Linked DNA regions of Homo sapiens. The protein of the gene in region 1 interacts with the protein of each later gene in a pairwise test. Each region holds a gene or a part of one and is shown on either strand. Other genes may lie near its edges.

What was found.
Region 2: the proteins of CLOCK (region 1) and PER2 interact in a two-hybrid assay, tested with the Homo sapiens proteins (one study listed by BioGRID).
Region 3: the proteins of CLOCK (region 1) and RORC interact in a two-hybrid assay, tested with the Homo sapiens proteins (one study listed by BioGRID).
Region 4: the proteins of CLOCK (region 1) and PPP2R5E interact in a two-hybrid assay, tested with the Homo sapiens proteins (one study listed by BioGRID).

What each region holds. Positions count from the first base shown.
Region 1 is NC_000004.12:55,536,899-55,543,924, forward strand, and holds part of CLOCK (circadian locomoter output cycles protein kaput), read right to left. Parts: intron 1-7,026. UniProt on the Homo sapiens protein: Transcriptional activator which forms a core component of the circadian clock.
Region 2 is NC_000002.12:238,250,596-238,257,621, reverse strand, and holds part of PER2 (period circadian protein homolog 2), read left to right. Parts: intron 1-535; coding exon 536-700; intron 701-1,710; coding exon 1,711-1,965; intron 1,966-3,919; coding exon 3,920-4,710; intron 4,711-5,860; coding exon 5,861-6,023; intron 6,024-6,878; coding exon 6,879-7,026. UniProt on the Homo sapiens protein: Transcriptional repressor which forms a core component of the circadian clock.
Region 3 is NC_000001.11:151,807,777-151,814,802, forward strand, and holds part of RORC (nuclear receptor ROR-gamma), read right to left. Parts: intron 6,920-7,026; coding exon 6,798-6,919; intron 5,927-6,797; coding exon of another isoform or gene 5,845-5,926; coding exon 5,712-5,844; intron 5,571-5,711; coding exon 5,463-5,570; intron 5,282-5,462; coding exon 5,171-5,281; intron 3,659-5,170; coding exon 3,549-3,658; intron 1-3,548. UniProt on the Homo sapiens protein: Nuclear receptor that binds DNA as a monomer to ROR response elements (RORE) containing a single core motif half-site 5'-AGGTCA-3' preceded by a short A-T-rich sequence.
Region 4 is NC_000014.9:63,393,362-63,400,387, reverse strand, and holds part of PPP2R5E (serine/threonine-protein phosphatase 2A 56 kDa regulatory subunit epsilon isoform), read left to right. Parts: intron 1-3,671; coding exon 3,672-3,802; intron 3,803-5,102; coding exon 5,103-5,162; intron 5,163-6,459; coding exon 6,460-6,568; intron 6,569-7,026. UniProt on the Homo sapiens protein: The B regulatory subunit might modulate substrate selectivity and catalytic activity, and might also direct the localization of the catalytic enzyme to a particular subcellular compartment.

The DNA.
Region 1 (7,026 bases):
TAACTGACATTTGTAAAACACTCCACCTAACAACAAAACACACATTCTTTTCAACTGCACATGAAGAACACTTACAATGATAGAATATATTCTAGGCCATAAAATAAATCCGAATAAATTTAAAATTATCTCATTACAATGGAATTAAATTAAAAATAACAATGATCTCTGGAAAATCCTCAAATATTTGAAAACTATATAACACACTTATAAATAAACTATAGACCCAGTAAGACATCAGGAAAGAAATTATAAAGTACTCTGAATGGAATGAAAATGGAAACATATCAAAAACTGGAAACGGCCAGGAGTGGAGGCTCACATCTGTATCCCAGCACTCCAGGAGGCCAAGGAAAGAGGATTGCTTGAACTGAGTTCAAGACCAACATGGGCAACACAGTGACATCCTTGTCTTCAGAAAAAATTGTAATAAACTCTGGCCAGGTGTGGTGGCTTACACCTGTAATCCTAGCACTTTGGGAGGCTGAGGCAAGTGGATTGCCTGAGCTCAGGAGTTGACGACCAGCCTGGGCAACATAGTGAAACCCTATCTCTACAAAAAATACAAAAATTAGCCAGGCATGATGGCACGCGCCTGTAATCCCAGCACTTAATAGACTCTGGTGCGAGGATCTCTTGAGCCTGAGACGTCGACACTGTGGTGACCCCGTGATTGGGCCACTGCACTAAAGCCTAGGCAACGGAGTGAGACCCAGTCTCAAAAAAATAAAAATAAAAATAAAAAATTAGCCAGGCATGGTGGCACATGCCTGCAGTCCCAGCTACTCAGGAGGCTGAGGTGGGAGGATCACTTGAGCCTGAGAGGTCAAGGCTGCAATGGGCCATGATCACGATACTGTACTGCCTGAGCAGTAGTGAGACCTTGTCTCAAAAAACAAATAAATAAATTATAAACAATTAAAGGGAAGTTTATAGCATGCTTACATTAGAAAAGAAAAAAGGTCACAAATCAATGACCTCAGCTTCTATCTTAAGAAACCAGAAAAAGAAAACAAATTAAACCCAAAAGTAAGCTGAGGAAAGGAAATAAAGACCAGGGCGGAAATAAGAAAACCACAGGCAGTCAATTAAACTAAAAGTTAACTTTTTAAGAACCTCAATAAAATTAATAAACTTCTAGCCAGACTAATCAGGGAAAAGGGGAGCAGAGACAAATTACTAGTATTCGGAATGATACTAAATCTCTACAGGTTATACAGATATTAGACTCATTACACTTTCTACAGATATTAAAAGAACAATAATAGAGTATTATAAGCAACTTTTTGCAATAAATGCAACAAGTTAAATGAAATGGGTAAGTTCCTTCGAAAACTTATCAGGCATGTGAAGAGACGGAACAATACAACCATATGACCAATAACCAACAGAAAAACAAACAAGATAAACAGACCAATAGATGATGCCGATATTGGAAAAGACAAGCATTTAAATAACTATAATTAGTATGTTCAAGAGAACTGGAGTCTATTACAAGTCTATAAAACAACATCAAAGGAATACTCTAGAACTCAAAACCACAATGTAAAATTAAGAACACAAAAGATTATTTTGACAAAAAGAGAAGATAGTTTTGGCATACTGGAAGGCAGGTCGATAGAAAATATCCAAACAGAGAAAAAAATTTTTTTCAACATGTGGAACATGATAATTAAGTTTAATATATGTGTAATTAGGATCCAAAAAGAAAAAAGGGGCAGAATATATGAAAAGGTGGTAACAGAACTTTCCAAAACTAAAAGGCATCCAGCTAGATTCAAAAAACTCTATAAACATAAAGCAACAAAGAAAACCACATCTGAACACATCAAAGTGCTTTAAAAGTAACACAGAGAGTCTTAAAATTAGCCAAGGAAAAATAAAAGACACATTATCCTCAGCAAGAATATAGCTAATACATTGCCTTCAATAAGACTGGTAGCTGACTTCAACAAAAAGAAAGGAAGACAGAAAGCAACCAAACATTCTTAATGTGTTGAAAGAAAATAACTACCAACTTAGAACTTAATAGCCAGTGAAAACACACTTCAGGCCAGCCACAGTGGCTCATGCCTGTAATCCTAGCACTTTGGGAGGCCAAGGTGGGCAGATCACTTGAGGCCATGAGTTTGGAGACCTGCGTGGCCAACATGGCAAAATCCTATCTCTACTAAAAATACAAAAAATTTAGCTGGGTATGGTAGCACATGCCTGTAATCCCAGCTACTCAGGAGGCTGTGGCATGAGAATCATTTGAACCCAGGAGGCAGAAGCTGCAGTGAGCTCAGATCACGCCACTGCACTCCAGCCTAAGCAACAGAACGAGACTGTCTCAAAAAAACAACAACAACAACAACAAAAAAAACACCAAAAACCACTTCAAAAAAGGTGAAACTGCCGTGCATGGTGGCTCACACCTATACCCAGCACTTTGGGAGGCCAAGGTGGGGGGATCTCTTAAGCCCAGGAGTTCAAGAACAGCCGGGGCAACATGACAAGACCCCGCCTATACAAAAAATTTAAAAATTAGCTGGGCATGGTGGCATGTGCCTGTGGTTCCAGCTACTGAGGAGGCTGAGGTGAAGGATTGCCTGAGCCCAAAAGGTTGAGGCTACAGTGAGCCATGTTCACACCACTACACTCCAGCCTGGGTGCCAGAGTGAGACCTTGTCTCAAAAAAAAAAAAAAAAAAAAAAAAAAAAGGTGAAATTGAGATATTTTCAGAGAAACAAAAATAGAAAAAATCACTGATACTAGGTAGGCCAGTATCAAAATGCATGATATAGGGAAGTGACAGTATTATTATCCTAAAAATTGAAAACAACTTCAATGTCCAACAGAAGATTGATAAGTAAATTATTACACAGAGATGAGAATGTTACATACCTACTAAAAATAATCACATAGCAGAAAAATACTGACATGAAAATATGTTGATGATTCACTGTTAACTGAACAGCTTGCACTGCAGTGGACTACATTAGGAGCCCATAACATCATATAAGTATACATATACTTATGTAATGGCTCAACAAAATGCAGGAAGCAGATAGATAATCAAGAAGATTAACAACAGCACTTTCGGTGGTATGATCTCCAATGATATTAATTTTTTTTTTTTTTTTTTGAGACTGAGTCTTGATCTGTCGCACAGGCTGGAGTGCAATGGCGTGATCTCTGCTCACTGCAACCTCTGCCTCCTGGGTTCAAGCAATTCTCCTGCCTTAGCCTCCCAAGTAGCTGGGATTACAGGCACCCGCCACCATGCCCGGCTAATTTTTGTACTTTTAGTAGAGACAGGGTTTCACCATGTTGGCCAGGCTGGTCTCAAACTCCTGACCTCAAGTGATCCACCCACCTCAGCCTCCGAAAGTGCTGGGATTACAGGTGTGAGCCACTGTGCCCTGCCTAAAATGTAATCTATGCTTTCTTACTGTTTCCCACATTAGGGATGTGCTATTTTTTAATTGGGGGCAAGAGAGGAGGGGAGAGGAGGGGAGGGGAGGGGAGGGGGGAATGGAGAAAGGCAACTCTTTACATTAAACCATATTTTAATACAAATGATAAGTTCTTAGCTAGGCATATGGTCTAACCTTTATTGGTATATCCCCCATGTGTGCTTTTTAATTTTTTTTTGATACCAAAACCTGCCAACATGAATCAACCTGTACTTTCATTTTCCACTATTTGGACCTTGAGAGCTTGCTCGAAGGTTCTAGCAGGGGAGCGCAGCTGCTCGTATACCCTTGACCCAAGACCAGTCCTCCTCTATTTGGGATGGTTGTCCTCTTCAACCAAGCACGCAGCTTCAGCTTCAGGAGGGACGCACGTGGAGTGGAGAGGGAGGAAGGGGACACCTGCCGAGCCAGCCAGATGAGCTGAATCAACCCTGGGGATCAATGGGGTAACATGTCACAGCCAGATAGCCCTCACATTCAATTTTCCACTATTTGGGATGAGAATTAAAAATGTTAAGTACCTGAATGTGACCTCTTTGAAAAAGAAACTTAATCGTCGTCATTATTAATGTAAAAAATGAAAATGTTTCTGAAAAATGAAAAGCAAATTATATCCGAAACAGCATACTTTAAAAGACAAAGTAATTCATAAAATTTCATTTTTCACAAGTGATTTCTGTAGACTTCTAAGACTTAAAATTAACAGAATTACATCTCTGTGAAATATCCAACTAAAGTAATAACTCAGAGTTGAGGCTATAAGAGTAAGTTTAAATAATTCAACATTTGCATAATCAAAAAAATGGAAAAAAACAGGAATCTCGGTATCCACCTGTTTCACAGAAGTTACACCTAATAGGGCTTTTAATAAATGGTTGTAAAGCAACCTGTAAATATAAATGCCATTATGTAATTATAGTCAATTAGTAACAATTATATTGCTCTGACACTTGAGTGTTCTATAAATAATTCATACAACTCCATCTAGAATTTTTGATCCAGAAAAGGAGAAAATGCAACAGCCATTGGTGTAATGCCTACAAGGAACTTAAAAAATATTTTACTTTATGCATCTGTAAAAAACTATAAGGAAACAGATAAACATCAAAAGGTTTAGCTACAGTGCAGAACTTTGACTTTTCCCCCACAATATTGTTTTATTAAAATAGTCACAGTAAATAAATGCTTTATTTGACACAGCACTAGAAGTAAAAATGTGTGGAAGAGGTGACATAATATATATGCTTCAAGATTGAGATAAGAGGAAACAATTTTCTTTTAATATTAACACTGGCTGACATATTTGATGGTAGACAACAGTTAACTGATAGGATTTAATTTCCTAATTTTTCTAGCAATCCTGAAATGATTAAAGAGGCTGTATTATAATTATCAAATAAAACATCAAATGGTTCTTTCCAGCGGGAAAGCTTAAAAAAAACTACTGAAATAGCTATCAGTCTCACAGATGCCTGCTAAAAGAACATAACAACTCCTTACGTTATCAAGAGCTAAGATCTAAGTTTCCTTTCTTAACTAATTAAAAGGTTAAGATACGTATTCTCCCTCAAAATCCCATGCCTCTCCCCCCACCAAAAAAAAAAAAAACAGCCAGAAATAGGCTCATCCTTACAAATGTTGTATGTAATTTTCTTATAAAATCTATCATTTTCCACCTTGTGTTATAATGTCTATGCTTTTCAGTTGGGCATGGTGGCTCATGCCTGTAATCCCAGCACTTTGGGAGGCCGAGGTGGGCGGATCACCTGAGGTCAGCAGTTTGAGACCAGCCCGGCCAACATGGAGAAACACCGTTGTCTACTAAAAATACAAAAATTAGCCGGGTGTGGTGGCAGATACCTGTAATCCCAGCTACTCTTGGAGGGCTAAGGCAGGAGAATCGCTTGAACCAAGGAGGCGGAGGTTGCAGTGAGCTGAGATCACGCCACTGCACTCCAGCCCGGGTGACAGAGAGAGACTCTGTCTCAAATAATAATAATAATAATAATAATAATAATAATAATATTATTATTATTATTATTATTAATGTCTATGCTGTTTTAACCATACTAGATTTCAAAACCACTGAAGGCAGGGTCAATTATACTGCATCTTTCTAGGTATCTCCCATAGTAAATAGTCTTGATCAATACTCTGAACTTTTTGCAAACTCCATCAGCTAAAAAGAATTAAGGTTTGGTAATTCTTTGTAACCTGGTTTAAAACAAACCCTCTGGAACTATTAGAGAACCAGAGGGATGGATGGAGGAGAGGGTAGTGCATATTAGTTGTTTGTTGTCAGTTAAGCAAAAGCCAAACCAAAGAGCCTCTTCTCTCCTTTTCCCTTCAAAAGCTAAATTTTATCCAAGTCAGTATCAGTGTCCCTTAGTTAAGGACAGTCTGCTTAGGTTCACTTCAGAGGAGCTCAAGAGGCTGGTGTAATCTACGAGGCTTTCGTAGGAGTCTGCAAGCAAGTACAGAAGGAAAAAAAATCAAAGTTTAACCCATACACTATCGATCAAGTCAAAAGCCAAAGAAAACCCTAAAACTTGGACTCTAAAGAGTCCTATAAAATTCATGGAATCCAAGCACCTTTTGGGTTTGTTTTGTTTAAAACAGGGTGTCACTCTGTCACCAAGGCTGAACTCCTGGGTTCAAGTGATCCCTCCACCTCAGCCTCCCAATTAGCTGAAACTACGGTGTGCACCACCCCATCTGGCTAATTTTTTTTAAAAAAATTTTGTAGCAAAGAGGTCTCACTATGTTGCCCAGGCTGGTCCTGAAATCCTGGGCTCAAGCCATTCTCCCACCTCGGCCGCTCGAAGTTTACAGTGAATTAAATCTATACCAGATAAAACTCACATCAGTATGACCTCCCTTCAAACTCTGCAAATGCCTCCATAACAATTGGCCCCTCACTAGTGAAAAGATGAGTATGACCTATGGTCTATATCAGATGTTAAGCTTTCTGACAGGCTCCAAGTCATGTCCCTGTCCTGTAGGTAATAACAGAGCCCATACTGGAGGCAAAATGGCAAAGCAGATGATCATTCAAGATGATTCCGTTTTCAAGGCTGAAAAGAACATATTTGCAAATGCACAGAAAAAGATCTACAAGATCATACAGTGGTGTTAACAGTGTTACCCTTCAGTCAAGGGTATACGAGTAGCTGTGCTCCCTAGATTCCTCTGGGGAGGAATGTGAGCTAGAAGTGGATGTAAAGGGGTTGTCACTTATTATATATACACTGTATTAACTTTTTATGAGCATCAATTTACTTCTGTAATTTTAAAAATAAGAGTCCCAGCTACTCGGGAGGCTGAGGCAGGAGAATCTCTTGAACCTGGGAGCCGGAGGTTGCAGTGAGCCAAGATCGTGCCACTGCACTCCGGCCTGGTGACAGAGCAAGACTCCGTCTCCAAAAAAAAAAAAAATTGAAATGTAATTCCATTTTTAAAAAAGATTGAACGGACCCACATGGAATTCAAATGAAAAATAAGTGACACTTTGCAGAAGTCTATTAGAAAAACCTACATATCAAACAGAAATAATATAAGTATCCTATCC
Region 2 (7,026 bases), on another chromosome or scaffold:
CATGCCTGTAATCCCAGCTACTTGGGAGGCTGAGGCAGGAGAATGGCTTGTACCTGGCAGGCGGAGGTTGCAGTGAGCCAAGATTGCATCACTGCACTCCAGCCTGGGTGACAGAGCGAGACTCCATCTCAAAAAAGAAAAAAGAAAGAAACAGGGTATCCCGGATTATGGTTGGCTCCTGACTGTCGGAAAGCCCCTCCCCACAGGCCTGCAGAAGGGCTGCCTGGCTGCAGGCAAGAGCCCCTCACCAAGTGTGCCCTGCAGCTGCCAAGCTGCTGCGCCTCCCTGCAGAGGCCTCAGGATTTAAGTGTGTAACTGCTCCCATTTCAGAACTTTCTCTTTTCCACTATTCTTCTATGAATAAACATTGGGGACAAATCACCCCATGCCTGGGCCAGAGCATCTGTGGGATGGGATGGGATGGGTTGTGTGCACCCTGGTGTGGAAGCTGTATGGGCACTTGGGTGTCGGTTTCTCATCTGCACAGTGCATTGTAATGACACACTAATGTTTGTTCCCCCTTCCTCTCATGAAGAGGCAGAGCCGCCCTCCAGGGTGAACAGCCGCACGGGAGTAGGTACGCACCTGACCTCGCTGGCACTGCCGGGCAAGGCAGAGAGTGTGGCGTCGCTCACCAGCCAGTGCAGCTACAGCAGCACCATCGTCCATGTGGGAGACAAGAAGCCGCAGCCGGAGTTAGGTATGACTATGGGCTCTTGGATCAGAGAGCAGTTTGATTTTTAACCATGAAAACAAGAAGTTTGCCATCTTAAATTTTTCTAAGTGCAGAAGAACTCCACCATAGCCCGATAGGGGGCGTTTCAGGAAATCCAGTTACGTAAAATGCAGGGTGGAGTGCGGCCAGCCAGGGCCCAGGCAGCAACCTGTCCAGGTCTCTGCTGCCCTGTGGTGCCCTCCAGTGGCAGTTGTCTGTTCTGGCATCAACGCAGGAGGGTTGATTGTGGTGCAAGATCTTATCCCCTTTAATTGGTGCGGAGAGCACTGGGAGCGAGGCCCCACCTCCCTCTTCCCTGGGCAGGCCTGGGGTTCTTTCCTCTGCCCAGCAGAAGGTGCGACCGTTAGCTCTCCCTGTTTGTGGACAGGAGCCAGTACAGGTGGTAAACAGATTTACAATGAGCGCATTGGTGGCTGAGTGTTCTTGTTCTTTAGAATATTATGATTAAAATGAATCCTGAATTTGTTCTTTACTAAGAAGAGGGAAATGATAAGGAAAAAGTGTATGTCCAAGATCCAGTCCCCAAGCCCTCCCTTTCAGGATGGTCAGTGGCCCTGCCTGTCCCTTGTCCTGTCTGCCCCATGGGCCCATAGGGTCCCATCTATCACCATGCCTGGTCCCAAACCCGGAAAGACTCAGCACGTTGATCCAAGTTTCTGGTGTTCTGAAAGCTAAGGACAGCCGAGGGATATCTTCAGCAGCAGAGCTGAAGCCCAAGGTTCCCCACGTTTCCGTTTGTTCAGCCCCAGGTTCCTGAGCACCTGGCTGTCAGGGCTGTCCTGCTCTGCTTCTTGCCTTTTGCCATGAACTTTCTCAGAAAGCTAAATGAAAACGCTGTGAGTCTCATCCTCATGCCACAGGCATCATGAAATTACTTTATACGTGAATGATTTGTCTTGTTCGTGAATATAGTGTGGCCTTAAAATAATAAACAGGGCACGTGTGGACCAGAGCCCTGGGTTCTTGTGTTACAGAGATGGTGGAAGATGCTGCGAGTGGGCCAGAATCCCTGGACTGCCTGGCGGGCCCTGCCCTGGCCTGTGGTCTCAGCCAAGAGAAGGAGCCCTTCAAGAAGCTGGGCCTCACCAAGGAGGTACTCGCTGCACACACACAGAAGGAGGAGCAGAGCTTCCTGCAGAAGTTCAAAGAAATAAGAAAACTCAGCATTTTCCAGTCCCACTGCCATTACTACTTGCAAGAAAGATCCAAGGGGCAGCCAAGTGAACGAAGTAAGTGATACCCGAATTAAAAGTGCGTTTTAAAAAACTTTATTCCTGTTGGTACTGAGTCCAGTGCTGGTTTCAAAATGTGAAATGTGTCCAGTTTCAGAAGCATTAACATATAAGACAGCTGTTGGAACTTCCCTGGCAACGCCATCTGTTTCTGTAGAACTTCCCACCGGGGGGGTGCTCTCGGGATGTCAGCTTGCATTCCCTGGGGAATAGTCCCAGGCTAGTGCCCGAGGTGGGAAGAACCATGGCAGGGCAGTGCTGCCATGTCCACATTTCTTGCCTGAGTAACCATGTGGGCAGGGGCCCCACCTGGACGGGACCTCCAGAGAATCAGCGAATTCAACCTCAAGATAGTGGGCATGTAGTGCTGGGCACATGAGGAAGGAGGGATGTACCATTTCTGGTGCCCTTCTCCCCAGGAGATGCACCCTCCTGACTGGGCCAGCCTCAGGGCTGGGCTTTGGACTCCAGAGTCAGGCAGAGTCCATGGTCATGGTGTGGGAAGCTGCTGTGTAGGCCAGGTGCCACTTGGGGGGTTGAAGGTCAAGGGATGAAGTAAAATAGATGAGCTTCTTCACCCCTTTCCTGGCCCAGAAGTCTGGCTCCTGATCCCCCAGTTCCTTCCCATACCCCCAGACACTTGTTAGAGATGGGGCCTCTTCCCTTCCCCCTGGGACGCTGGCACAGGGATCAGAGCCAGTGAGCCCAGGAAGCCACTCACCACAAGGACCCAGCTCCCCCGGGTCTCTGGGCAGACGCACCAAGGGAAATTTGTAAGAAATTAAGCCCACAGCTTCCTTGAGGATTATGTCTTCTCCACTCTTTCCTTTCTCTCCTTCTTCCCCAGATTCAAGAGTTACTGCCAGCCCATAGAGAACCTCTGTAGAAATTAGAAAAAGGTGTACTCCATGGCCATGAGCAGACCCACCCCATGGGACCAGCCTAGTGCAGAGTTCCCGCTCTTGCTTGCCCCCTAGACAACTCTGTAGCCTTATGCAGTGCACAGACTACAGAGCTGCCTAGGGCAGCCCTGCCAGACCCAGACATGACATCCCAGGAGCCCAGTGCTTTAGCCACTGTTCCCACCAGGGGACAGATTTCTTGTGAGAAGAACACCAGATAGAGAGGCTGAATTGCAAAACCTCCATTTACATAGGAGTTTGCCTTGGACTAGCCCATTTCCCTTCAGCACATCCCAAAGGCATGGGACTGCCTTGGCACAGCTGACAGATGTCCCAGACACCTGCTGCAAGAGCCCCAAGTCACTCCGCGTGATGTGAGAGGAAAACCAAAGTTCCCTGGATCCCCCTCCCACTCCCCAGGGAGGCCATGGGGACATACCCAGAGTCCCTCCTTTACCAATTGAGTCCCTCCATCTTCCTGAAGAATGCCTTACTCAGCAGCACTCGTTATTGCAGAGGAAGAATTTGGTTGCAAGGCAATGCTCCCCTCTGATCTTGCTCAGGCTGTTTGACAGGTGAAAGAGGAAACATCCCTCTTTAAGGAACAGTAGTGACAGTGCTTATAAATTGAAAAATAGAGGAGGTCAGTGGCTCTCCCGTTCAGATTTCACTAACCAATTTTTCCCCCAAATACTGGGGAACAGCAGAGACATGACAGCTTTTTAGTGTATTTATTTAACAAATAGAACTTTGTATTACCACTTATCATATTAGCATTTCATAAAAGAAAGGACATTTAATACCAGAAGAAAATAAGGAATGTGTCCTGCAATTAAGAGCTTGTAATTTAAGTTGATTCAATTTAGTTTTATGGAAAAACCTGATGTTTTGCCCTGATTTTTCTCACTTCACTGAGGATCAGGGAAAACCGCTCGGTGGACCAGGCAGGCCCTGGGCCAGCATTTGGAAACCCAGGACTGTTGAACGAAGAGGTGTCTTCAAATTTGGAGTTAAAATTTTAACTCCGAGTATTTGTTTTTCTGCATTAGCTGCCCCTGGACTAAGAAATACTTCCGGAATAGATTCACCTTGGAAAAAAACAGGAAAGAACAGAAAATTGAAGTCCAAGCGGGTCAAACCTCGAGACTCATCTGAGAGCACCGGATCTGGGGGGCCCGTGTCCGCCCGGCCCCCGCTGGTGGGCTTGAACGCCACAGCCTGGTCACCCTCAGACACGTCCCAGTCCAGCTGCCCAGCCGTGCCCTTTCCCGCCCCAGTGCCAGCAGCTTATTCACTGCCCGTGTTTCCAGCGCCAGGGACTGTGGCAGCACCCCCGGCACCTCCCCACGCCAGCTTCACAGTGCCTGCTGTGCCCGTGGACCTCCAGCACCAGTTTGCAGTCCAGCCCCCACCTTTCCCTGCCCCTTTGGCGCCTGTCATGGCATTCATGCTACCCAGTTATTCCTTCCCCTCGGGGACCCCAAACCTGCCCCAGGCCTTCTTCCCCAGCCAGCCTCAGTTTCCGAGCCACCCCACACTCACATCCGAGATGGCCTCTGCCTCACAGCCTGAGTTCCCCAGCCGGACCTCGATCCCCAGACAGCCATGTGCTTGTCCAGCCACCCGGGCCACCCCACCATCGGCCATGGGTAGGGCCTCCCCACCGCTCTTTCAGTCCCGCAGCAGCTCGCCCCTGCAGCTCAACCTGCTGCAGCTGGAGGAAGCCCCTGAGGGTGGCACTGGAGCCATGGGGACCACAGGGGCCACAGAGACAGCAGCTGTAGGGGCGGACTGCAAACCTGGCACTTCTCGGGACCAGCAGCCGAAGGCGCCTCTGACCGTAAGGATTTTCTGATGCTCTTTCCCCAAAGCAGGCAGCAAACAGCACACCTGGCAGGCCGGCCGCACATCCTCAGTTCAGACATGGGGGTTACACGATTGAGGTTTCCACCAAACCCTGTAGGTTTTGCCATGAATGTGTGTGCCAGAAATTCATGCTTCCCACTTAATCCTATCAGAGTAGATTATTCGAAGCCTTTTATTGTCGTGGAATCTGAATGAAGGAGGAGAGATTGTGATACAGACTCCAGAAAGCAGCATGTGACTTGACAGTATTTGTGGGCTTCGACTTTTTAAATGACGCTTCAGAGATAAAGCACAGTCAGGTTAAATACCAGAGCTAGGGCTCCTCAGGGTGTGGCGCCGGAGCCTGGCTCAGGTGGCCCCGGTGAAGGCGGAGAAGGAGGGGGACACAGCCCTAAAACCAGCGTGACCTCAGTTTCCATCCTCCGCAGGCGTAGGGACACTGTGTGAGATTCTTAACCAGTTAATGAAACGGTAGTTGTATTTGCAGTTAAACGCTTGTGTTTCTGAACGAGCTCAAGTGTGTGGGAACGCCAGCAGCAGTGCAGTCCGTAGGCCTCAGGCGATTCCCTGCCTTGGCCAGAGGACCTAGGGCTCCCGGGTGAGGAAGTGCAAGCATGTAGATCTGTGGAGCTTCTCCCAGTCCTCCTGCCACCTCCGGGCTCCTGCTTCTGGAGTCCTGGGCCTGCAGTCTGGGTTTCCAAGGAGAGGAGGGTCAGGGATGCTCCCCAGGCCAGGCCCCGCCCTCAATCCCAAGGCAGCCCCCACACCGGGTGCTGTGAGAGGCGTTTTCCCCATCCATGTCTGCTGCATGTGAGGAGGGGGCTGTGGCCAAGGAGCAGCCTGAGGCTTTCCCCCCTGGAGCCCAGGTATTGCCGTCTTCCATGTGACTCTCCGAAAATTAAATGTAACTAGACGGCATCCATAGAGCATCAGTGGAATTTGCACCGTAGGCCTGGTGGTGATGCGTGGTCTGCTCGTTAGGCCGTCCCTGGCCGTGAACCTTGCAGCCGCTCCACAGCACCCCTCCACCCTCACCCCACTCATGCCCCCCACCCCCACCCCGCTGCATATGCTGTGTCCTGACTGAGCCCCTGAACAGCAGTATCTGCTTCCTGTCCCTAAAGCGTGATGAACCCTCAGACACACAGAACAGTGACGCCCTTTCCACGTCAAGCGGCCTCCTAAACCTCCTGCTGAATGAGGACCTCTGCTCAGCCTCGGGCTCTGCTGCTTCGGAGTCTCTGGGCTCCGGCTCACTGGGCTGCGACGCCTCCCCGAGTGGGGCAGGTATGTTGGCCCTGGCGGGGTGTTAGGCACTTGGGAGGTTCCTGCAGGATGCACTGCTCCAGAGTCACAGGCCGGCCTCTGTGCTCAGAACAGGGATCACCGGCACTCCCCAAGCAGCTGTCAGAGCCCATGCAGACACCCACACAGACACACTCTCCCTGTTCAGCATGGCTGGCCCTAGCTAGTCAGAATTCCACATCCTCCCTGTTTGCTTCTGATTTCAGTGCCTACAGGCCTCACACCCTGGCTCCTTGTGGGACCAGCCCTCTGACTCCCCAGATAGTGGTTTGCCTTCCTGCTTTAGTTCCACTTGTGTGAACTGAGGGTATGGAGCACCTGCAAGCCTCTACCCGCTGGGATCTTTCACATGTGATCTGGAATCTCAGGCACCAGAAATGTACACACTCTCCACAAAATTGAAGCTCCCCTACTTCTCTGGAGTGAGCTTTCACCTCGCCTCCCTTCGCAGGCGTGCTGCACAGGTGAGGCTGGCTAGGGAGCGCTCCAGGCCAGCTGCCTCCCCTTGTGGGAAACTGCAGTGCCCTGTGGTCCACATGAGTGGAGATGGTGAGAGCTTGGGAGAGAAGGTCAAGGCTTCTAACACGCAGCTCCACCTGAGCTGCTCAGGGCTTCACAGGAAAGAATCGCCTGCATGGCACTAGCAGAGATCCTGTTTCCTAATTACCCAGAGCATTCAAGAAGTGGGAGAGAAGGGGAACATGCACCGGCATAGATACCCAATACCTAAGAAGGCACTGGGCTCTCTCAAATCATTCTGACTTTGAGGAAGCACATTATGCAAGGTTTAATTTCATATGTCAATGTTTTGACGCACCACGTTTTTTGTTTTTAAAGGCAGTAGTGACACAAGTCATACCAGCAAATATTTTGGAAGCATTGACTCCTCAGAGAATAATCACAAAGCAAAAATGAACACTGGTATGGAAGAAAGTGAGCATTTCATTAAGTGCGTCCTGCAGGATCCCATCTGGCTGCTGATGGC
Region 3 (7,026 bases), on another chromosome or scaffold:
CTGGTAGAAGTACGTGTGTGTTCAGGACACTGGAGGGAAGTGAGAGTGGGTGGGGCACAGGTGAATGTTTTCTGGGTGAAGCCCTCAATTTATGTTCCCAATACTTCTAGAATGAACCTTGTCAAAGACTCTAATGTGCACTTCCTGCTTTTATAAGAGTGATTGTCTGTGACTCTTGTTGTATGCTGTCACATGCCTCTGCCTTTGTGCATGTTGTTCCCCTCTTCCCATTACTAATCCTTACCCTCTAGTGTCACCTCTCCTAAGACTATTTCCCTAACTGCCTCCCATCTGGATTAAGGGCCCTTCTTTTGGGCTTTCCTCTGTGTAGCACTTACTACATTGCAGGAAAATGGTCCAATTTGTCTGCCTTCCCACCCTAGATTTCAGCTCCTTGGCTGAGGTCTCTCTTTCCCTGTCTCCTCTGTACCTATCATAATGCTTAGCACATGGCACATGCTTAATAACTCTTTGAACTAAACAGACTTTCTAAGCAGGCACCTAACACTGCAAGTAGCAAACCAATGCTGCCAGCACTCAGCCAAAGGGGAGATGAAAAAGGCACAGAAACCAGTGAGCAGACGGAGGCAGGGAGACCTCACTGGAGCAAGGCTGAAAGAACAATTTATCTCTTGCAGTCTCCTCTACAACCAAGAGGCTTAAAAATGTCTCTTGCCTGCCATTGCCTCCCTCCCCCAGCTTAGTTTCCTTGGAAAGAGGCAGTCAGAGAAAAGCAGGCAGCAGGGTGTGATCCCTTCATATCTCCTAGATTCTCTCTCTTCCTCACCACTGCTTTATTCTGAGCTTTTTTGGGCTATGGCAATAGCTTCCTTCATTCATTCAACAAATATTTGTTGAGAACACATCTGGATCTGAGCTAGGCACTGTGATGGCCTCTAGTGATATATCAGATATATCAGTCAATAAAGTATAATCTGTACCTTGATTAAATTTACATTCTGGTGAGGGGCCCAGAAAATAAATATGTAGTGTATCAGATAATAAGTTCTTTAAAGAAAACTAAAGCTTTTTGTATGGGGTTACTGGTCAGGAAAAACCTCTCCCGAATGAAGAGATGGGGTAAGCCATTTGGAAAACTGGGGGAAGAACCCTCCAGGTGACTACAATAGCAGGTACAAAAGCCCTGCGACTGGGTTTGATGTGTTCGAGGAATAGCAAGGAAGCAAGTGTGGCTGCAATGGGTGTTTGAAGGGGCAGTGGAAGATCAAGTGAGAAAAGAAGGCAGGGATCATGTTATGAGCCACTTGACCATGACGCAGACTCTAGATTTGATTCTCGGCATCACAGGCAGCTACAGGAGGGCTGAGAACAGGAGTCAAGGCCAGGTGTGGTGGTTCACGCCTGTAATCCCAACACTTTGGGAGGCCAAGGTGGGCAGATCACCTGAGGTCAGGAGTTCGAGACCAGCCTGGCCAACATGGTGAAACCCTGTCTCTACTAAAAATACAAAAATTAGCCGGGCGTGTAATCCCTGTAATCCAAGCTACTCAGGAGGCTGAGGCAGGACAATCGCTTGAACCTGGGAGGTGGAGGTTGCAGTGAGCCGAGATCACACCACTGCACTCCAGCCTGGGCGACAGAGCAAGTCTGCCTCAAAACAAACAAACAGAACAAACAAACAACAACAACAAAAACAAGAAAAAAACCACAGGAGTAGGGCATGATGAGATTGCATTTTTAAAAGGGCTACCGTGGGTGCGGAGTAGGTGTGGTTGCTACAGGGCAGATGAGGGTGGAACAGGGGCTCAGTTAGGAGGCCTCTCTTAAAGTCCAAGTGAAAGCTGAGAGCTGGTAGGGGCCAGGGTGGTGGTAATAGTAGGGAAGGTGATGTATTTTGAAAGCAGATCCAACCGGATGTGCTTTCCAATTGCTCTCCCAGATTCCTGTCTCTCCTCCTTCAAATCCATCCTGTAGCAGATTAAAGTTCAAGTTCTTGAGAGCACAGACCGTGTAAGTCATTGCTGTATCCTTAACACCCAGCCCTGTGCCTGGCACATAGCAAAGGCCTGCTTGAATAATTACATAAATGGTTCCTTTATACTGGTTCCAAAGTAAATTGCCTAAATGACAGCTCTGATTGTGTCATTTTTCTAGCCTTTGGAGCTCCCTGTGGCCTAGAAATAAAGCTTTAACGCTTATATGGCATTGAAAGTCCTCTCTGATTTGCCCCTGACCTAATTTTCAGGCTGATCATCTGGTGCTCTTCTGCCCCACCAGTCTATCCCAGCTCCTGATTTTACACTTTAGTGAGGATGTACCATGAGTGATTCTCCACATACACACTATTTTGCCTCCTTATTTTTCTCCTGTTGTTCTTGGTCTTCATTGTACCCTAGTCCCACACCCAAATCCCATAAAACAATTATCCCCAGCCTCTCATACTCATCTCATCCATTTTTTTGGTTAAACCTCAGGAAAAGGATTTTTTTTCATTTTTTTTGTTTTGCTCCTATTGTTCCCTAAGCCTGGAATGCCTGCCCCACCCCCATGAATGCCTGTTAAAATCTTACATCATTCATGGCCTAGTATAAATGTCATCTTCCCTGGGAAGTATTTATGACCCACTCCTTTTACCCCCAAATTATTTTTAATCCCTGTTTTATACTCTCATAACATTTTCCTGGTGTCACTTATTATAGTTATACATAGGGGACACAGGGATAGAAAGAGCGCAAAGAGCACTGGGATTCAATCTTGCATTTAAGTCACTGAAGTCTCCTGATAGCTACAAGGAGATTTTTTTTTTTTTTTTGAGACAGAGTTTGCTCTTGTTGCCCAGGCTGGAGTGCAATGGCACAATCTTGGCTCACTGCAACATCTGCCTCCCGGTTTCAAGCGATTATCCTGCCTCAGCCTCCCAAGTAGCTGGGTCTACAGGCGCCTGCCACCATGCCTGGCTAATTTTTTTTATTTTTAGTAGAGATGGGGTTTCACCATGTTAGTCAGGCTGGTCTCGAACTCCTGACCTCAGGTGATCCACCCGCCTTGGCCTCCCAAAGTGTTGGGATTACAGGCGTGAGCCACTGTGCCCGGCTGCTACACAGGGAGATTTGAACACCTGTCCTATTGACTGGGTTGCCATGAGGATGAGAAAGCATGTCAGCAAAAGCACTCTGTTAATTGCATTATTATTATATCACATACCACATTCTACTCTATGTTAGAGTTAGTGATACACAGATCTCTTCTTCATACCAGATTAAAATCTCTTGGTGGGGGCAGCGACCAAATCTCTGTGTCTTTCCACAGTGCCTTGTACAAGCAGGTGCTGGGTAAGTGCTGGCTATATTAAACTGAATTGTTCCCTGGAGGTCCCTCCCAATCCCAGGCCCTCTAACTTTCCAGTCTTTATGCACGTGGAAGTAGCTGTTCATTCCCTTAGTTCCCACTGCTGATGCAAGCTCTCTAACAGAGAGTGGTACTCCCGCACTCCCTCCTCTGTACCCACAGACCCCGGCCCTCGCAAACTCTGATGTTACAGAGCTAGCGATGGGCCTGGCCTCTTCTACCCCAGGGACTGCTCCTACCTTTGCCAGGATGCTTTGGCGATGAGTCTTGCAGAGATGATGATGAAAGGCCAGCTCCAGATTGTACTGCAGCTGTTCTACTTTCCTTTTCTCTTGGAGCCCTGGCCGATCTGGAGGAGGGGGTGGGACCGTAATGAGAACAAGAAAGAACATGGACATTAACTCCCAACAAAAGGGTGTATCTTTGTGGACATCTGTGCTGGATAGAGGTCTTCTAAGCTGAGCGCGTGCATGTGTGTGCCTTGGTTTGATAATGGTAAGCTCTGGACGTTGGGCTTGGCTAGCTGTCTACAAGGAAAACTGGGAAGAGATGAAAGGTATGAGAATTTCTGATCTCCTGACTCCAAGCTACCTTCTCCCTGGTAACCTGATATTCCACATAGCTCATTCAATGCTAGGCACTAGGATTCTGTCATAGGGGTAACAAGAGTTGGAAAAGAGCTCCCCCATGTACGAAAAGGGCTCCTGATAGGAGGTGGCCTTCCTGAAGGTGCCCAGGCCTGCACCAGGGGGCTTGCAGCAATCTGTGACTAACTTTTGCCCTGATTCTATAAAATATCCAGAAGTCATCTTTAAAGTTTTTATCTTCTAGTTTGAAGGGCATATTTAGGTGTCCACTCACTGGCAGAGCCAGAAGACTGATAGTCTCGATCTGCAAACTCAGGTTAGCAGCTTGACCCACTTCCCTAGGTTCTCTGAATATTTAGTATTCATCTGGCTCAGCCCAGCTACTCCATGCCAGGGGAGTGGATAGGATATCCAGAGTCTTCCTATTATAGGCATACAGCCTTAAAATTAGTTCACACAGAGCAGTGATTCTTAATCTTGGTGGCCTGGGGGTGGCTGTTAAAATTCAGTGCACCCCTTATCAATTACAGATGGTCCCAGTCTTATGATGAGTTGACTTACTATTTTTTGATTTTATGTTGGTGAGAAAGCCACTTGCATTCAGTAGAAACCATACTTTGAATACCCATGCAACCATCCTGCTGTTCACTTTTAGAACCATATTCAATAAATTACATGAGCTATTCAACACTTTATTATAAAATAGGCTTTGTGTTATATGCTTTTGCCAGACTGTAGGCTAATGTAAGCATTCTGAGCACATTTAAGGTAGGCTAGGCTAAGCTATGGTGTTCAGTAAGTTAGGCGTGTTAAATGCAATTTCAACTTACCATATTTTCAACTTACGATAGGTTTATTGGGACATAACCCCATCATAAGTCATGGAGCACATGTACACTGGAATCTCTGGAAGTGGGACCCAGGCAGCAATAGTTTTTAAAGCTCCCCAGGTGATTCTGATGTGTGCTACAATGAAATCACTGCCATAGACTAACAATCAGACACATTTCTGTCAGGAAAGTGGCTCATTTCCTCTCAACCTCATTTCTCCCCACTTCCCACAACCCCACCTTATGCTGCTCTTGTCCCTCTCTGAGAGTCCTCTGAATCTTTATTTTAACTCATTTTATTTTATAGCAATACTGAGTAGGGCTCATTCTGCTATTTAAAGCAATTTCCCAGATTTAACTACATCTGAAGGTCTAGACTCTTCTTCAATATCTGCCATGCCCCTGCCACCTGAATGTCCTTCACCCAAGCCCAGCAACACTCACGGGCATTGATGAGAACAAGGGCTGTGTAGAGGGCAATCTCATCCTCGGAAAAGTGCAAGGCACTTAGGGAGTGGGAGAAGTCAAAGATGGAGCTGATGAGCTCGCTGCAGCCTGATGGAGTGGAAATGAGAAAAGTGAGAGAGTGGCTGGAGCGATGGTGCCCGAGGACACCGCCCTTATTGTGTTTAGAGCAGAGGGGGCAATTCGCCCTGAAAAGAGGGTGCCCTGGGTCACAAAGCTTTGCCTGGGGTTGGCATCAGAATCTTCCCTCTCATTTCTCCCTGCCCCTCACCCAAGGCTCGGAACAGCTCCATGCCACCGTATTTGCCTTCAAAAAAGACCGTGCGGTTGTCAGCATTGTAGGCCCGGCACATCCTAACCAGCACCACTTCCATTGCTCCTGGGCAGTGGGGAGAGAAGATGCAGGGACAGTGTCAAGCAAAGCCAGGATCTGACTCTGTCCCCCTGATTTCCTTAAGCCACCTCCCTCCACTTGGCTCTGTCCCCTTGTCCCCAGGCCTGCCCACCCATCCCTGGGCACCTGCTTTGAGAAGCACAATCTGGTCATTCTGGCAGAGCTCCATAAAGCCTGAGAGCCTCTTGGCGAACTCCACCACGTACTGAATGGCCTCGGTGAGGTGGTGGGCACACCGTTCCCACATCTCCCACATGGACTGCAGGGAGGGAGGAGGGTCCCGCTGTAGCGCTCTGTGTGGCCCTGTGATCCTCCTGAGCCCTGGAGCCCCACCTAATAAACTGCAAGGGGTAGGCTCTGAACTCCTATGTTCTCAACTAGCATTTTCAAAAGCCTGGTCTTAGCACAAATGCACAGATTCCTGCCAGTGAGTCCCACACACTGAGCACCTACCGGCTGCTGACACCGAGTTAGCTGTTGTGAGGGAATCCAAAAAGTATGAGATACAGCTTTGCCCTCCAACAAGGTATATCTCGTTGAGGTGAACAGGACATACAGCTGCCCCTTCCCCCACAAAGGTTATGCCCAAGGTCTCAATAACCTGGAGAAGCAAATGTGAAGTGCCAAACGAGTGTGTTTAGAGCAGGTGGTATGAGAGTGTGATCGAAAAGGCAGCATAAACTTTGGAGCCTGATGAATCTGAATTTGACTTTGGTTCCACCACTTTGTGACTTTGAGGAAACCTATTAACCCCTCTAGGCTCAGTTTCTGTCTGTTAAAAGTAGGAATAAATGCCACCCTCATAGGTTGGTTGTGGTAGGGGCTGAGGATAATTTACATAAAGCGTTTAGCACAATGCCTGGCAGAGAAGGGGTGTTTAACAAATGGTAATCAGGGTTCTGATTATTGTTATTGTTGATGGAAGAGGAGGAAGGAGGGTGCACCAAGGTCTGCATGGTAGAGGAGGTAGGATGAAGGCCAGGTACAATTTTAATAGGCAAGAACTAAGGAAAAGCGCTCATCCATCTGCTGGGGTGTAGACAGATACACACATTCGCAACTGTACATAAAAGGTGTGCACATGCTTGTTGGCCAGCCTGTGTCTGTGATGTCCCGCCCTGCCCCAGGACCCAGTCGTGCGCAGGTAGCCATCTCTGAACTCTCCCGGTGGGGGTGGGATACGTTCCCTTCCTGCAGGTCTCCTGGCCTCACCTTCCTCTGGTAGCCAGTCACTTCCTCCCGGGAGAAGATGTTGGAGCGCTGCCGCAGCAGGTCCTCCAGCCGCAGCTGGCATGTCTCCCTGTAGGACTTGCAGACGCTCTGCACCAGGTGCTCTGGGGCCGGAGAAGGAAGGCATGGCTTGATCTCAGCCAGCTCCTACGCCTACCCATGCAAGGGCACTTCTCAGCCTGGCCTATCCTGCTCCGCCTCCTCCCTCCGC
Region 4 (7,026 bases), on another chromosome or scaffold:
GATGTCTCTTCCTTTAGAAGCCTTTGCTGATCACTCCACTTCTTCCAAATACAGTAGATGTGTCTGCTGTGTATTTATACAACATCCTGAACTACTTAACATGCTGTTTATTTACTTGTTTGTATTCCCCATTAGAATAGGCTCTGAGAAAGCAAAGACTGTATCTGTCTTGCTTATCATTGTATCCCTGACAGCTCGCCCACTGGCTGGCTTTTAATAAGCACACCATAAATATTTACTTGAAATACTCATTTTTAAAATGAACAGATGAATGAATGATAGATGGATGGTGGATGGCATTATGTAGCTAAAAATTGTGTCCTGTCTCTACCTATTTTTGAAGACCATCCTTTAGTTTGCGTTTCCTGCCATGTTTGAGGGGCCTTTTTTTGGTCCATAACTCTTGTCTTTTATTCAAATTAAAACACCGAACAAAAGCACATTCGATTATTGACCATGAGGTTTTTATTCTGCTGTCAGTGTCAACCTCATGTCTAAATCACCTGAGGTCAAACTTACATATATCTGGATAGCCTTTTTGATGACGATGGTAGTCTAATTTGTGTGTTATGTGCTCTTGAAATGTTTTGCTGTAAAGACACTAGAACTGAATTTTGCTTTATTGCAATGATGATGAATGTTAAAAAAAACAACTCAGTAACATTCAAACCAATTTCCAAGTTTGTTCTTCAGCCAGAGGAACTTGCACACTGACTTTTTGTAAAGGTAGCAGATTTATTGTGTTGTAATTCATACACCATAAAATTCACCATTTTAAAGTTTCCAATTTAGTGGTTTTTAGTATGTTTACAGAGTCATGCAACCATCACCACAGTATCATTGCAGGATGTTTTTATCATCCCTCAAAGAAATCCAGACCCACAGGAGGCTGAAGCAGGAGAATCGCTTGAACCCGGAAGGCGGAGGTTTCAGTAAGCCGAGATAGCGCCACTGCACTCCAGCCTAGTGACAGAGCAAGACTCTGTCTCAAAAAAAAAAAAAAAAAAAAAAAAAAAAAAAAGAAAGAAATCCAGACCTATTAGTAGCCACTCCCCATTCTACTTTCTGTCACTATGGATTTGCCTATTCTGCTTATTTCACATAAATGGAGTCATACATTGTATGGCCTTCTGTGTCTGGTTTCTTTTACTTACTTAGCATGATGTTTGAAAGATTCATTGATGTTGTAACATGTATCAGTTACTTTGTTCCTTTTTATGGCTGAATAATATTCCATGGCATCCCATTTTGTTTATCAGTTGACGGATATTTGGGTTGTTTCAGTTTTTAGCTATTATGAATATTGCTCCCATGAACATCTGTGTACAAGTTTTTGTGTGGACATGTGTTTTCGGTTCTGCTGGATATATACATGAAAGTGGAATCGCTTAGTCATATAGTAACTCTGTGGGAGATTTAAGGAACTGCCAAACTGTTTTCTGAAATAGCTGCACCATTTTACATTCTTACCAACAATGTATGAGGGTTCCAGTTTCTCCATATCCTCGCCAACACTTTTTATTATCCCTCTTTTTCATTATAGCCATCCAATGAGTATCTCTTTGTTGGTTGGGTTTTCTTTTCTTTTCTTTTTTTCTGAGATGGAGTCTTCCTCTGTTGCCTAGGCTGTAGTGCAGCAGCGCGATCTCGGCTCACTGCAAACTCCACCTCCCAGGTTCAAGCAATTCTTCTGCCTCAGCCTCCCGAATACCTGGGATTACAGGCATGTGCCAGCACGCCTGGCTAATTTTTGTATTTTTAGTGGAGACAGGATTTCACCATGTTGGCCAGGCTGATCTCAAACCCCTGACCTCGTGATCTACCCCCTCGGCCTCCAAAAGTGCTAGGATTACAGGCGTGAGCCAGGGTTTGCTTTTCTGTAATGATCAATAAAATAGAGCACTTTTCATGGTTTATTGACCATTCTTGTTGAAAATCAGTTGACCATAAATGTGAGGGCTTACTTTTGGGCTCTTAATTCTATTCCATTAATCTGTATGTCTGTCTTTATGCCAGTACCACACTGTCTTGGTATTTTGGACTAAGTTTTGAAATAGAGAAGTGTGAATCTTTCAAGTTTTGTTTCCCTCAAGAGTATTTTGGCTCTTCTGGTTCTCTTGCATTTCCATATGAATTTTAGGATCAACTTGTCAATGATACAAAAACAAAGCAGCTAGAACTTTTGATAGAGATTGAGTTGAATCTGTTGTGCTCACTGGCATTTGGCTGAAACTTTAGCTTGTTACCTCTTTTGGACTAGTTGCGTGGACCTCATTTTGAGCATGTAGATGTGATGTTATCAGGATTTGGTTATTAACTTTAGATTACAAATGTTTGGGAACTTAAACATGTTATTCACAGCCAGGCATGGTGGCTCACACCTCTAATCCCAGCACTTTGGGAGGCTGAGGTGGGTGGATCACCTGAGTTCTGGAGTTTGAGACTAGCCTGACCAATATGGTGAAACCCTGTCTCTGCTAAAAATACAAAAAATTAGCTGGGCACGGTGGTAGGTGCCTTTAGTCCCAGCTACTCAGGAGGCTGAGACAGGAGAATTGCTTGCTTGAACACAGGAGGCGGAGGTTGCAGTGAGCTGAGATCGTGCCACTGCACTCCAGCCTGGGCAACAGAGCAATACTCCATCTCAAAAAAAAAAAAAAAAAGTTATTCACATATAACATACAACAGAAATAATCAATGTTCACTTCGTTGACTATTTACAGAGTGAGCACACCTACATAACAAGAGTCTGGATCTAAAAAGGACCATTGCCAGTATCATTGAGACATTTTGATGTTTGTTTTGATTCAGGTTTTTTCATTTTCCTAGATGTTCTAGTAGAGCTGAAGGCTTATCCTTTTTTTTTTTTTTTTTTTTTTTTTTTTAAAGACCGAATCTTGCTCTATGGCCCAGGCTGGAGTGCAATGGCGCGATCGCAGCTCACTGTAACCTCTGCCTCCTGGGTTCAGGTGATTCTCCTGCCTCAGCCTTCTGAGTAGCTGGGATTACAGGTGCCCGCCACCACACCTGGCTAATTTTTGTATTTTTACTAGAGACGGGGTTTCACCATGTTGGCCAGGCTGGTCTTAAACTCCTGACCTCAGGTGATGCGCCTGCCTTGGCCTCCCCAGGTGCTGGGATTACAGGCATGAGTCACCACAGGCAGTCAGCTTATTTTAACTGCATATTTGGAATATCAGTAGGTAGCATAGTGCAGTGGTTGAGCTACGGACTTTTGGCCTCAACTGCTGGGGTTCAAATTCTAGCTTTACCACCTATTAGCTGTGAGACCGTGGGCACGTTACTTAACCCTATGTGCCCCAGTTTCCTCTTCTGTAAAAGGGGGACAAAACTATCTCATTGGGAGGATTAATATGTAGATTGCTTGGAAAATTGCCTGATGATCACAGTAAGTGCCATATGTGTATTAGCTATTATTCATATTATTACTTTTATTGTTGTTATTTTGTATTTGTATTTCTTTAGTGGAATATAAGCTCCTTGTCTGACTTGTTTATCATGATATGCCCAAAGACTAGCACTGTGCTTGGCACATAATAGATATTCAACACATTTTTTGAGGAAGGAAGAAGGGGATTTTAAATAATAGAATTCCTAAATCCTTTTCTGAAACCGCCTTTGACAGCTATAATGTCTTTCATTTACAACAGCTTCTGGAGCTATTTGACAGCGAAGACCCTCGGGAACGGGACTACTTAAAAACAGTCTTACACAGAATTTATGGCAAGTTTCTTGGTCTTAGAGCATTTATCCGAAAACAGATTAACAATATTTTTCTAAGGTAAGTGGAGTGTGATGGGGGAAGAAGGAGAAGCAAAGTTGGTGTTTTTATGAGTATTAAGTAAATCTCAAATATCTGAAAACGGTGTACTGACTTCTCTTTCTCCCTTTCTGCCTGCCTTCCTTCATTCTACTGACTCTCCTGCCTCTTCCTCTACCCCCTCCCCCTCCTCTCCTCCCCCATCTTCTCCTCTCCTCCCCCATCTTCTCCTCTCCTCCCCCATCTTCTCCTCCCACCCTCCTCTTCCTCCTCTTTTCCTCTTCCTCTCCCTCCTCCCCCCACTGCTTCTTCTCTATCCCTCCTCTCCCCCTACTTTCCCCCTCCTCTTCCCTCTCCCCTGCTTTTCTCCTCCCCCTTCTCCTCCTCCCCCATCTCCTCCTCCTCTCCTCTTTTCCTCTCCTCTCTCCTCCTCCTCCTCTATCCCCTGTCCTCCTCCTTTCTCCCTCCCTCTCCTCCTCTCCTCCCCGCTCTCCTCCTCTCCTGCCCCCTCCCCCTTCTCCTCTTTTCCTCCCTCTCCTCCTCTCTTCCCCCACCTCTCCCTCCCCCATCTTCCCCCTCCCCTCTCTTCCCCCCTTCTCCTCTCCTCCCCCGTCTCTTCCCTCCTTTTCTCCCCCTCCCCCTTCTCCTCCTCTTCTCCTCCCTGTCCTCCTCTCTTCCCCCACCTCTCCCTCCCCCATCTTCCCGCTCCCCTCCTCTCTTCCCCCCTTCTCCTCTCCTCCCCGACTCCTCTCTTCCCTCCTTTTCTCCCCCTCCCCCTCCTCCTCCTCTCCTCCTCCCTCTCCTCCTCTCTTCCCCCCATCTCTCCCCCGTCTCCTCCTCTCTTCCCCCCTCCTCCTCCCTTTTCCCTCTGCTCCTCCTCCCTTCCACCCTCTCCTCCCCCCTCTTCTCCCCTCTCTCCTCCGCTCTTCCCTCCTCTCCTCCCCCTCTCTCCCCATCTTCTCCTCCCTCTCCTCTCTTCCCCCATCTCTCCCCCATCTCCTCTCTTCCCCTCTCTCCTCCTCTCTTCCCTCCTCTCCTCCTCTCTTCCCTCCTCTCCTCCTCTCTTCCCTCCTCTCCTCCTCCTCTCTTCCCTCCTCTCCTCCTCCTCTCTTCCCCCCTCCTCTCCTCCTCCTCTCTTCCCCCCTCCTCCTCCTCCTTCTCTCTTCCCCCTTGTCCTCCCTCTCCTCCTCTCTTCCCCGCTCTCCTCCTCCTCCTCCTCTTCTCCTCCTCCTCCCCCTTCTCCTCCTCCTCCTCCTCTTTTTATCCCTTCCTTCTCCTCCTCCTCTCCTCCTTTCTCCTCCCTTTTCTCCTCTTCTCTCAGGTTTGTTTATGAAACAGAACACTTCAATGGTGTAGCTGAACTGCTGGAAATATTAGGAAGGTGAGCACGGTTTTTCTAATTGCTAATCTCAGATGAATATTATTTTAAAAATTAGGTTCAGGTGGCACCAAGAGATGCTCACCTAGTTCTCTTGCTGTATGTACATTGGGTCTCTCTCATTTGTGCCTATTAGCATATTTTCCAGCTGACTCTACAAGACACAATTTCCTGTTCCCCTTGTTCCACAAGTATGCATTGCCATTTCCACTGGAATGACTGAAAGAGCTGACAGTTCATTCATTACTAGAAAGATGGTACATCTAATTGTGGTCAGGCTAGTTACTCCAAAACATCTTATTCTCATTAGTTTTTAGGCTATCTGGTCCTTTGCCTTATCTGTTGAAAGCAAGTTTATAATAAATTGGAAAGATTGCCATTTTCAAAGGAGTTGTGTATCCAGGTATAGTCCTTGAACAGCTGCAGCCTGGAGTAGTGGAATGAATTGGAAAGAGCTGTGGTGTAAGTTTCTACACACAAGGGAGGATAATGTAGCTGGACAATATGATTACTTAATCTTTTCTCCTAATATGAAGAGAAAAAGAAGGTGGAGTCACATGGCTTTCTCTCAGTGATTTCCCTAGGCTGGGCAGAGGTTTCAGGAATGAGAAGGAATGATGTCTGGAAATGGAAAAGGTCATATTTAAGGCGGAAGCAAGCAAGGCGGGCCATTATTTGGAGAAGGAAAAGGGAGGGAAAATAAAGGGTTTTGATAAAGAGCTTTTGGAAACCATCTGACTAATTTTAGGAGCACAGGAGCCTTTGTTGGGTGACCAGAAGCAAATTTTCTTCTCTTAAATTTCCTTCCAACTTTTTGTATTCCTTGAAGTCATTAAGAAATCCTGGCTGGGTGTGGTGGCTCACGCCTATTATCCCAGCACTTTGGGAGGCCAAGGTGGGCAGATCATTTGCAGTTAAGAGTTCTAGACCAGTCTGGACAATATGGTGAAACTCCTTCTCTACTAAAAATACAAAAAAATTAGCCAGGCATGGTGGTGGGTGCCTGTAATCCCAGCTACTTGGGAGGCCTGAGGCATAGGAATAGCTTGAATCCCGGAGGCGAAGGTTGCAGTGAGCTGAGATTGGGCCACTGCACTCCAGCCTGGGCAATAGAGCAAGATGACTCTGTCTCAAAAAAAAAAAAAAAAAAAAAAAAAAGGAAATTCTGAATGCCACTGGGGTGGGTATTATGTTGTTTTGTACAAACAAACTGATTAAGTTTAATTAATATCACAAGAACAGTTTGTCTCAGTTCAACTTGTGGTAACATTGCTAATTTGTGTCTCTTTTTTCTCCCTAGTATTATCAATGGCTTTGCTTTACCTCTTAAGGCAGAACACAAACAGTTTCTGGTGAAAGTATTGATCCCTTTACACACTGTCAGGAGCTTATCACTCTTCCATGCACAGGTAGGAGGATTTTGTACAACTACTTTTAGAAGCAAAATAAAAAGTTTGCAAACTCGTTTTTTTGATATTGATATAACCTTCATTTTGTTTTTTTGGTTTTTGTTTTTTGAGACGGAGTCTTGCTCTGCCGCCCAGGCTGGAGTGCAGTGGGACAGTCTTGGCTCACTGCAGCCTCCACCTCCCGGGTTCAAGCAATTCTTCTGCCTCAGCCTCCCGAGTAGCTGTGACTACAAGCGCACGCCACCATGCCCAGCTAATTTTTGTATTTTTAGTAGAGACGGGGTTTTACCATGTTGGCCAAGATGGTCTGGGTCTTCTGACCTCATGATCCGCCCACCTTGGCCTCCCAAAGTGCTGGGATTACAGAGGTGTGAGCCACGGCGCCGGGCCTATCGCCTTCATTCCCAAAGGAAAGAGACTTACTTAAGTTTAAAATACTCCCCGAGGGAAATAAAAAT